Linked DNA regions of Homo sapiens. The protein of the gene in region 1 interacts with the protein of each later gene in a biochemical or structural test. Each region holds a gene or a part of one and is shown on either strand. Other genes may lie near its edges.

Region 1 (4,493 bases):
AGAGTCCCAGAAGGGGCTTCTGGCTGTGGGATTCAAGTGGTGGAGGGGATCTTCTGGCCTGGAAGGGGACCTGGGGAAGGAGGAATGAAGCACAGGCCCCACCCCTCCAGAGGAGGTGGCCCCAGGCCTTCCCCAGGGAACCCTGGGAAGCTGGTTCTTTCTGGAAGGCTGCAGAAGGGCCTGGCCATGGGTCCTGGAGGCCACTTAGGCTAGGCGGGCCTCAGGCCAGGAGGACTGAGCCATGCGCCCTCCCCACAGCGCAGCCCCTCTGCACACACCCCACAGCTGGTCCCTCTAAGACTTGCGGAAAGGGCTCTGAGTGGCCGAGCTGTGGCCCCTGATCTCCCAACCCAGCATCTGAGCAGAAGAGGACAGGAGCTGGGGCACTGATCGCCCCAGGCCCGGTCGGCAGGGTGGGGGCCAGGGCCGGCAGGATCCCGGGTTGCGCTGCCTTCCGAGGGAGCCGGTGCCCACCCAGCGGCCTGCAGCCCAAGGCAGGGTGCCCTGGGAAAGCCACCGCCACCCCCAGCCCCTCGGTGTGAGCAAGACCCCCAGCTGGTGGGTCCCCACCCACCAGTGGGGCTCCCAGGCCTGTCGGGGGCTCGGTGGTGGGCCTGGATGCTAGGGGGGCAACGTGCGGCAGGGACCAAGCTCTCCGGCCCACAGATGAGTGGGAGGGGGTCGTGGTGGGCATGGGAAGACATTTCCGACAAGCAGGGGTGTTGGGGGGTGAGCAAGGCAGGGGAGGGGCCCTGGCAGGTGGGGTGCCAGGGACCCCAGGGCTGGGGCTAGGCCTGTGGGTGGGGCGTGTGCTGGGGATTCTGTGGGCCGAGGACATGTGACTCCCGGGCAGGCTGGAGATGCTGGGGGGTGGGGGGTGGGGGGTGGGCCCGGGAAGCACAGGAGACGGCAGGTGGGGAGGTCCTCATCCCACCTCTATACGGGGTGGCAAGGACTCAGAAGCCCTTGCTGAAGGCTCTGAGTGCTAACTGTCAAGTGTGAACTCATTACAAACCCCTCCTCTGGGGACTTGGCGCTGTCACTGGAAGGGACACGCTATAGCTTTGTTTGAGTGACTCTGGAATGTTGCTAAAGACAGGAAACTCATTCTTGCCTTGGAAACACCCCCCTTCCTTTCCCAGACTCCCCATCTATGCGTTGGTAGGGTTAATGCCCACTGCCGTACGGGTCCTTGGGGCTTGAAGGTGGGCCAGGGAGGCCAGGGCTGCCACCCACAGCTGGCCAGCTTGCCATGGGAGCCCTCTCTGCTCCCTGGCTCGCAACCTGCTCCCACCGCCCAGCCCTGGTGGCTTGGAGGCAGCCCTGCATCTTCCTTTCAATATACCCACACGGGCTTGCCCTCAAAGGCTCACCATGCTGGCCCACAGTGGCCATACATGGGCATGCTCCGCACCAAGACATCCATGCTCATACACCAGCTCTCCTGGGGTGCGGCTGGCACCGGCGGCTGGGTGTCACCAGGAGGTGCTCACCCGCACCCCTGGGCGCTGGTCCCCGGGAGCCTTTCTGGCACGGGGGCAGGGGGGCTGAGCATCTCCAGCTTGTCTCAGTTCCAATTAGTTGCTATAGGGCAGAGAGCTGGCAGGCCAGGGAGGGGCGAGGGCCCAGAAACAGGACCCCCTGAGGATGGGACCTGAGCAGTCTGGCAGCCAGGACAGCAGGAGAGAGGCCTGCCCACCAAGACAGACCACTGGAGACTGATGTACCCTGTGCCCTGCAGATCCCTGGGCCCCCTGCTCTGCTCAGCAGGCGCTCAGGCACCCAGCCCCGCCCATGGAGCAGTGAGGGGGCGCTCCCCTCCGTGGGCCTTCCAGGGCACTCTCTCGCTCCCTCTCCTGGGTCCCTTGGCAGGCCCCTCTGGGACCCCAAGCCAGGTCCGCCCTGGGGAGCATGGCACAGTTGCCTGATTTTCTCTCCTTCCCCTCCACACCCATTCTGAGTCCCAGTCCAAGGGGGTCCTGGAAACAGACAGGGCTGAGCCACCCAGGCACCCCCAGTCAGGGCCCTTGCAGCCAGGGCTCCCAGGACCCAGACTTCTCACAGAGGATGTAGAGGCAGAGCATTAACCTGGGGGTGAGCGAGCGAGGAACATCTGGGCAGGGTGCCTGGGGTGTGCCTGGGAAACTAAGTCTTTCAGCCCATGCCAAGGACTGGCCTCAGGCAGTGCAGCGGAGGACTGCTCCTGGGTGCTGAGCTCGGTGGGCGCTGGGCGGTCCTCCCCGATCCGACCCAACCCGGGCCAGGCGCCAAGCCCTGGAGCAAGGAGGCGCCTGGGCAGAGCGAGGCTGAGGGAGTGGAGCATGCGCCTGGGACTTGCAATGATGAAACAGGGCCATTGGCAAAGCTGGGGTACCAGTCACCCAGCCACGCTCTAGGGTGGTAGCCAAGAAGACGGACCCCGAGCGGGAGGCAGAGAGACAAGAGGTGGATGAAGCAGAGCAAGGTCAGAAGGGAGAGGGAGAGGAAGGGGTGAGGGAAAGGTGCCTGGAGGGCGGCGAGACGAGGCAGAAGCCTGACAGGGACCAAGGGGGCCGCAGGGTGGCGATGAAGGGGCGTGGATCAGCAGCCTACAGAGAGCACCGGGGAAATCTGTGGACACCCTCGCGGCACTGGGGACAGCAGGACCAGGGCTTGGGACAGCGGAGGCAGCAGAGCCAGGGGCATCTCTGGGTTGCTGAGGAGGCAGCTTGAAGCCAGCCCTACCTGGAGAGGGGAGGCGCCAGGCGCAGGCTGACTAGTTGGCGGGCTGGGGTGGTGGGCCGTCCGCACGTCTATCTGTCCGGTGTGTCCGGCGGACCGAAAGCAGCTACTCACTCCTGGGCAGTTTGTGGAGAGAGGGAGACAGAGGCGGCGGGCGGGAGGCTAAAGGCTGGGCAGGCGGGCCGACGGGGAGGGGACAGCGGGGAGAGGGCGGGGAGGGAGGAAAGGAGGGAGGGGGCTGGTGGGGCGGAGAGGGCGGGCGAGCAGGAGGGGGCAGGCTTCCCGGCCCCCCTGGCAGCTTCAAAGGGAGCAATTTTCTTGTAGACGGCTGGACTAGCTGAGCCCCCGCCCCCTCGCCCCCACCACCTCCCCCCCCCTCCCCCGCCTGGGGCAGACAGCAAAGGAACGGACACACTCGCACTCACTCAAACAAGGACCCAGAGAGTCAAACTTTCCACTGCCCAGATGGGGACACTGAGGTGCTGGCTGGCATCTCGCCAGGCAGAGGAAAGAGAGATGGAAGAAAGACGAGGGGGAGGCGGCCTTGGGCTGCTAGGCCCATGAGTGGCCCCTGGAATTTGGTCCTGAGCCTGCCAGGAACCTGCTTGGGCCTAAGCAAGGAGGTGGTTTCTCCAGGATCAGAGAGGTAGCTGTTGTGGATTTCTGGAAGGACTTCATGTAGGCTCCTGGCGCCCTGTGCCCTCCCTTCCACTCCAGACTTTCTTCCCTTAAAAAGAGGGCCCGATCCGGCTGGTGGTGGCAGGACGGGGCAGGGGGCTCCCCAGCTTGCCTGCCCTGAACTGATTCAGAGACGAAGGATCCAGCGAGTCAGTCTTCTTGCTCAATCCCTGCAGGTCCCCTCGGACATGAGAACCACTCTGTGGGTGGCCACTTCCTCTGGGCTCAGCCCTGTGCTGGTCACTTACGGGGGCTAACCGGGTTACCCCACCAAGACTCAGCCGCTTCCTGAGGGCCCAAATGAGTCCAGTTCCTCCAGTGGCTAGAGCCCAGGTCCTTAGTACGACACTGCCCCCCTGTCCCGTAGTGTCCCCTTCTTCCCTCAGCAAGAGCAGCTCCTGAGACACAGGGGTAAGAGTTTAGATGGAGTGAGAAACAGATCTGCAATAGAACTGGGGGCCAAGAGTGCGGAAGACCAAAAGAGAAAATTGCATATTGAGAGAAAAAGCTCGAAGGGGCAGAGAGGGAGAGAGGGGTGGCTAGAGAGAGGCGGCATCCAATGGAGAGAGGACAACGTCGAGGGCTGAGGGTCTTCAACCCCTGGCAGTGCCATCACTCAACCGGGGGGTGGGGTCTGGGAGGTCCCAGGCCAGGGAGGATGCTCCCAGGGGAGCTCTACCTGGGGGCATGGCAGGGCACAGACCCCCTTCCTGTTCACCAGCGGCAGCCCAGGGCCTGGCTAGGACCTGGGACGCATGGCACCTTGACCAAACTGTGGTACCTGCCTGCAAGAAGCTTCTAGACTGGGCCAGGGAGAAGAGAGACGTGGGAAACCAGGGGCCAGGCTGGTAACCCTGGTTCTCTCTTGATTTCATGGTTGGAATGAGGAGATTGGAGACCACATATGCCCTTTCCAGACAAAGGAGATGGCTTGTCTTTCGGCAGGTTTGTGTGTTTTACCTTTTGCCCAGCCTCAGCGTCCGACTCTTGGCAGCCTGGTCTCATCTCTGTCCCACCCTCTTTCCCTCCCCCACTGCCAACTCATTCGTGGAGAAATATGTCGGTAGAGAGCGGGACAGGCAGCGAAGCCTGAC
Region 2 (3,800 bases), on another chromosome or scaffold:
GGAGCTCAGGAGTTTTGAGAGCAGCCTGGGCAACATGGCGAAACCCGGTCTCTACACAAAAATACAAAAATTAGCCATGCATGCTGTTACGTGCCTGTAGTTCCAGCTGCTTGGGAGACTGAGGTGGGAGAATCACCTGAGCCTGGGAGGTCGAGGCTGCAGTGAGTCATAATCACACTACTGCAATCCAGCCTACATGAAAGAGTGAGATCCCATCTCAAAAAAAAAAAAAAAAAAAAGATTCCAGGCAAAGGGAACAGCCTGTGCAAAGGCCTGGAGGCCAGGGAGAGCCTAACTAACTCATTTGATCTGTCCAGGAGATGATTGTCTCTGTCTGGTTTCTGGCAGGGCCCATGGTGCCCCTATCTCTCTCCCTCACCTCCCTCTCATTTATGCTTTTATTCAATAATTGCCCACAGGTTCCTGCTGTGTGCCTGGCCATGTGCTGGGTGGTGTGGGGGACATAGTGATAACCAAGACAGCCCTCAGTTCTGCCCTCATGGGGCCCACAGTCACTTCTGGACACCTAAGAGATCTTGTCAAGGCCCCACCAGGCAGGAATGACCTAGAATGATCAAGAATGGGATGGGGAGGCACCAGCAGGGAGGACAAGGCTGGGACAGGGAGGCATGCAGGATGGGGGAACGCCCTAAGTGCTGTTGGGAGCCCAGAGAAGGCACCTGGACCCATCTGGGGAGTCTAGGAGGGCTTGCTGGGTGAGGGTGATTGTGTGGAGACTCACAGGATAAATAGTAGTTTGGCCACATGAAAAAAAAGGGATTAGGGGGCCTGGCATGGTGGCTCACGCCTGTAATCCCAGCACTTTGAGAGGCCGAGGTGGGTGGATCACCTGAGATCGGGAGTTCGAGACCAGCCTGACCAACATGGAGAAACCCCGTCTCTACTAAAAATACATAATTAGCTCGGCGTGGTGATGCATGCCTGTAATCCCAGCTACTCGGGAGGCTGAGGCAGGAGAATTGCTTGAACCCAGGAGGTGGAGGTTTCAGTGAGCCAAGATCGTGCCATTGCACTCCAGCCTGGGCAACAACAGTGAAACTCCGTCTCAAAAAAAAAAAAGAAAAGAAAAAGAAAAAATAGGGATTAGGGAGCAGGTGGGCACTGGGAGGAGTGTCCTGGGCTGTTCGACAAAGGCCTAGAAGGAGCTCATCTGTCTTGGTCAATGCTGAGTCCCAAGCACACAGCACAGGCTTCGGCACATTGTAGGAGCCTAGAAAACATCATTCACTCATTCATTCAAGAGATTGATGCTGGCTGGGTGCAGTGGCTCATGCCTGTAATCCCAGCACTTCGGGAGGCCAGGGCAGGAGGATTGCTTGAGCCCAGCCTGGGCAACATAGTGAGACCTCTGTCTCTACAGAGAATTTAAAAAGTAGCCGTGTAGGCCGGATGCAGTGGCTCAAGCCTGTAATCCCAGCACTTTGGGATGCCAAGGCAGGCGGATCACCTGAGGTCAGGAGTTTGAGACCAGCCTGGCCAGCATGGTGAAACCCCATCTCTACTAAAAATACAAAAAATTAGCCGGGTGTGGTGGCGCATGCCTGTTATCCCAGCTACTTGGGAGGCTGAGGCAGGAGAATCGTTTGAACCTGGGAGGTGGAGGTTGCAGTGAGCTGATATCACGCCACTGAACTCCAGCCTGGGCAACAGAGCCAGACTCCATCTCAAAAAAAAAAAAAAAATTAGCCATGCGTGGTAGCACGCGCCTGTGGTCCCAGCTACTCGGGAGGCTGAGATGGGAGGATTGCTTGGGCCTTGGAGATTGAGGCTGCGAGACCTTGTCTCAAAAAAAAAAAAAAAAAAAAAAAGAGAGAGCTGCAGTGAGAGGGCAGAGTGGGGTGGGTGGGGGAGGCAGGAAGGAAGCCCCTGGGGTTTGCTCCTTCCTTCCTCTTCCTCCAGGGGCTGGGTGAGCTGCACTCTCAGACTGGCTTCCCTCTCGCCACTCCTACAGGGGAAATTGAGGGCTTTCGCCTTAGCGCCCACTGCTCCTGTGACAGCAGGGATAACACACTGCAAGTGGACATCAACGGTGAGGCCTGCTTCCCCGGCCATGCCCAGTTGTGACGTGTGTGCGTGTGTGTGTTCCCATCTGCCCCACGCCCCACTTATCTATCCCTCTGAGAGTGTGTGTGTATGTCCCCTATCCCCTGACTCCCACACCAAAGCAGGGTTCACTACCGGCCGCCGAGGTGACCTGGCCACCATTCATGGCATGAACCGGCCTTTCCTGCTTCTCATGGCCACCCCGCTGGAGAGGGCCCAGCATCTGCAAAGCTCCCGGCACCGCCGAGCCCTGGACACCAACTATTGCTTCAGGTGAGCCTTGTAGCCTGGATGGAGGCCTTCCAGGCTGGGGGCATGACTGCCATCTGCTGACCAGGTGCTCCAGGTTGGACACCTGGCTGCTGCTGTGCTTGGGCTGAGCATCTGTCTCCTTTAGCTTGGAGGGCTCAGGGGATGAGGTCTGGGTGTAAGAACCAGGAGTCTTGTGCCAGGTGCGGTGGCTCACGCCTGTAATCCCAACACTTTGGGAGGCTGAGGCAGGTGGATCACCTGAAGTGAGGAGTTTGAGACCTGTCTGGCCAACATGGTGAAACCCGTCTCTACTAAAAATCCAAAAATTAGCCAGGCGTGGTGGGCGCCTATAATCCCAGCCACAAAAAACAAAAAAAGAACTGGGAGTCTTGTAATGTTGGGATCAGGTTCCTTTTTTTTTTTTTTTTTTTTTTTTTGAGACAGAGTCTCGCTCTGTCACCTGGGCTGGAGTGCAGTGGCGCTATCTTGATTCACTGCAAGCTCCACCTCCCGGGTTCACACGATTCTCCTGTCTCAGCCTCCCGAGTAGCTAGGACTACAGGCACGTGCCACCACGCCCAGCTAATTTTTTTGTATTTTTAGTAGAGATGGGGTTTCACTGTGTTAGCCAGGATGGTCTCCATCTCCTGACCTCGTGATACACCCACCTCAGCCTCCCAAAGTGCTGGGATTACAGGCGTGAGCCAACGCGCCCGGCCTAATTTTTTGTATCTTTAGTAGAGACTGGGTTTCACCATGTTAGCCAGGATGGTCTTGATCTCCTGACCTCGTGATCCGCCTGCCTCAGCCTCCCGAAGTGCTGGGATTACAGGTGTGAGCCACCACGCCCAGCCTTGCTTTCTTGCTGGAGTGTTGGAATCACAGAATGTTAGAAAGTTGAACCCTGTGATTGTTGGAATTCAAAGTTGGAAGGTCACCATCTTGAATCCCTAAATTGTTGGCAGGTTGAGGTTCTAGAATGCTGGGATTCTAGAATGCTAGAATTTGGTGTTAATTACTGAAATGGAAAATGTCGGACTCAAGGAAAGCTGAAACATTGGAATCCTAGAATTTGGGGATTCAAAATGGGAAGATGGCCCATGTGGAATTCCTGCACCACTGGCCAATTGTGGATACCAGTGTTGGCAGATTGGAGTCCTTGAATATTGGGCTCACAGTGGTAGAATTCTGTTTTGAAATATTCACATCCACAAATGTTGGAGTTGGAGAAAGCAGAATATTGGTATCTCAGCATGTTGGAACTCAGTGTTGGAATGTTAGAATATTAGAATGCTGGGATTTTATTAATAGAAAGTGGCAGCAGGCTGGGCGCGGTGGCTCACGCCTATAATTCCAGCACTTTGGGAGGCTGAGGTGGGCGGATCCCTGAGGTCTGGAGTTCAAGACCAGCCTGGCCAACATGGTGAAACCCCATCTCTATTAAAAATACAAAAATTAGCCAGGTGTGGTGGCTGGCACCTGTA

What was found.
Region 2: the proteins of BGN (region 1) and TGFB1 form a complex in vitro, tested with the Homo sapiens proteins (one study listed by BioGRID).

The regions. Positions count from the first base shown.
Region 1 is NC_000023.11:153,493,345-153,497,837, reverse strand, and holds the start of BGN (biglycan preproprotein), read right to left. Parts: upstream 2,859-4,493; 5' UTR 2,725-2,858; intron 2,465-2,724; exon of another isoform or gene 2,373-2,464; intron 1-2,372. UniProt on the Homo sapiens protein: May be involved in collagen fiber assembly.
Region 2 is NC_000019.10:41,340,420-41,344,219, reverse strand, and holds part of TGFB1 (transforming growth factor beta-1 proprotein preproprotein), read left to right. Parts: intron 1-1,972; coding exon 1,973-2,050; intron 2,051-2,186; coding exon of another isoform or gene 2,187-2,189; coding exon 2,190-2,337; intron 2,338-3,800. UniProt on the Homo sapiens protein: Transforming growth factor beta-1 proprotein: Precursor of the Latency-associated peptide (LAP) and Transforming growth factor beta-1 (TGF-beta-1) chains, which constitute the regulatory and active subunit of TGF-beta-1, respectively.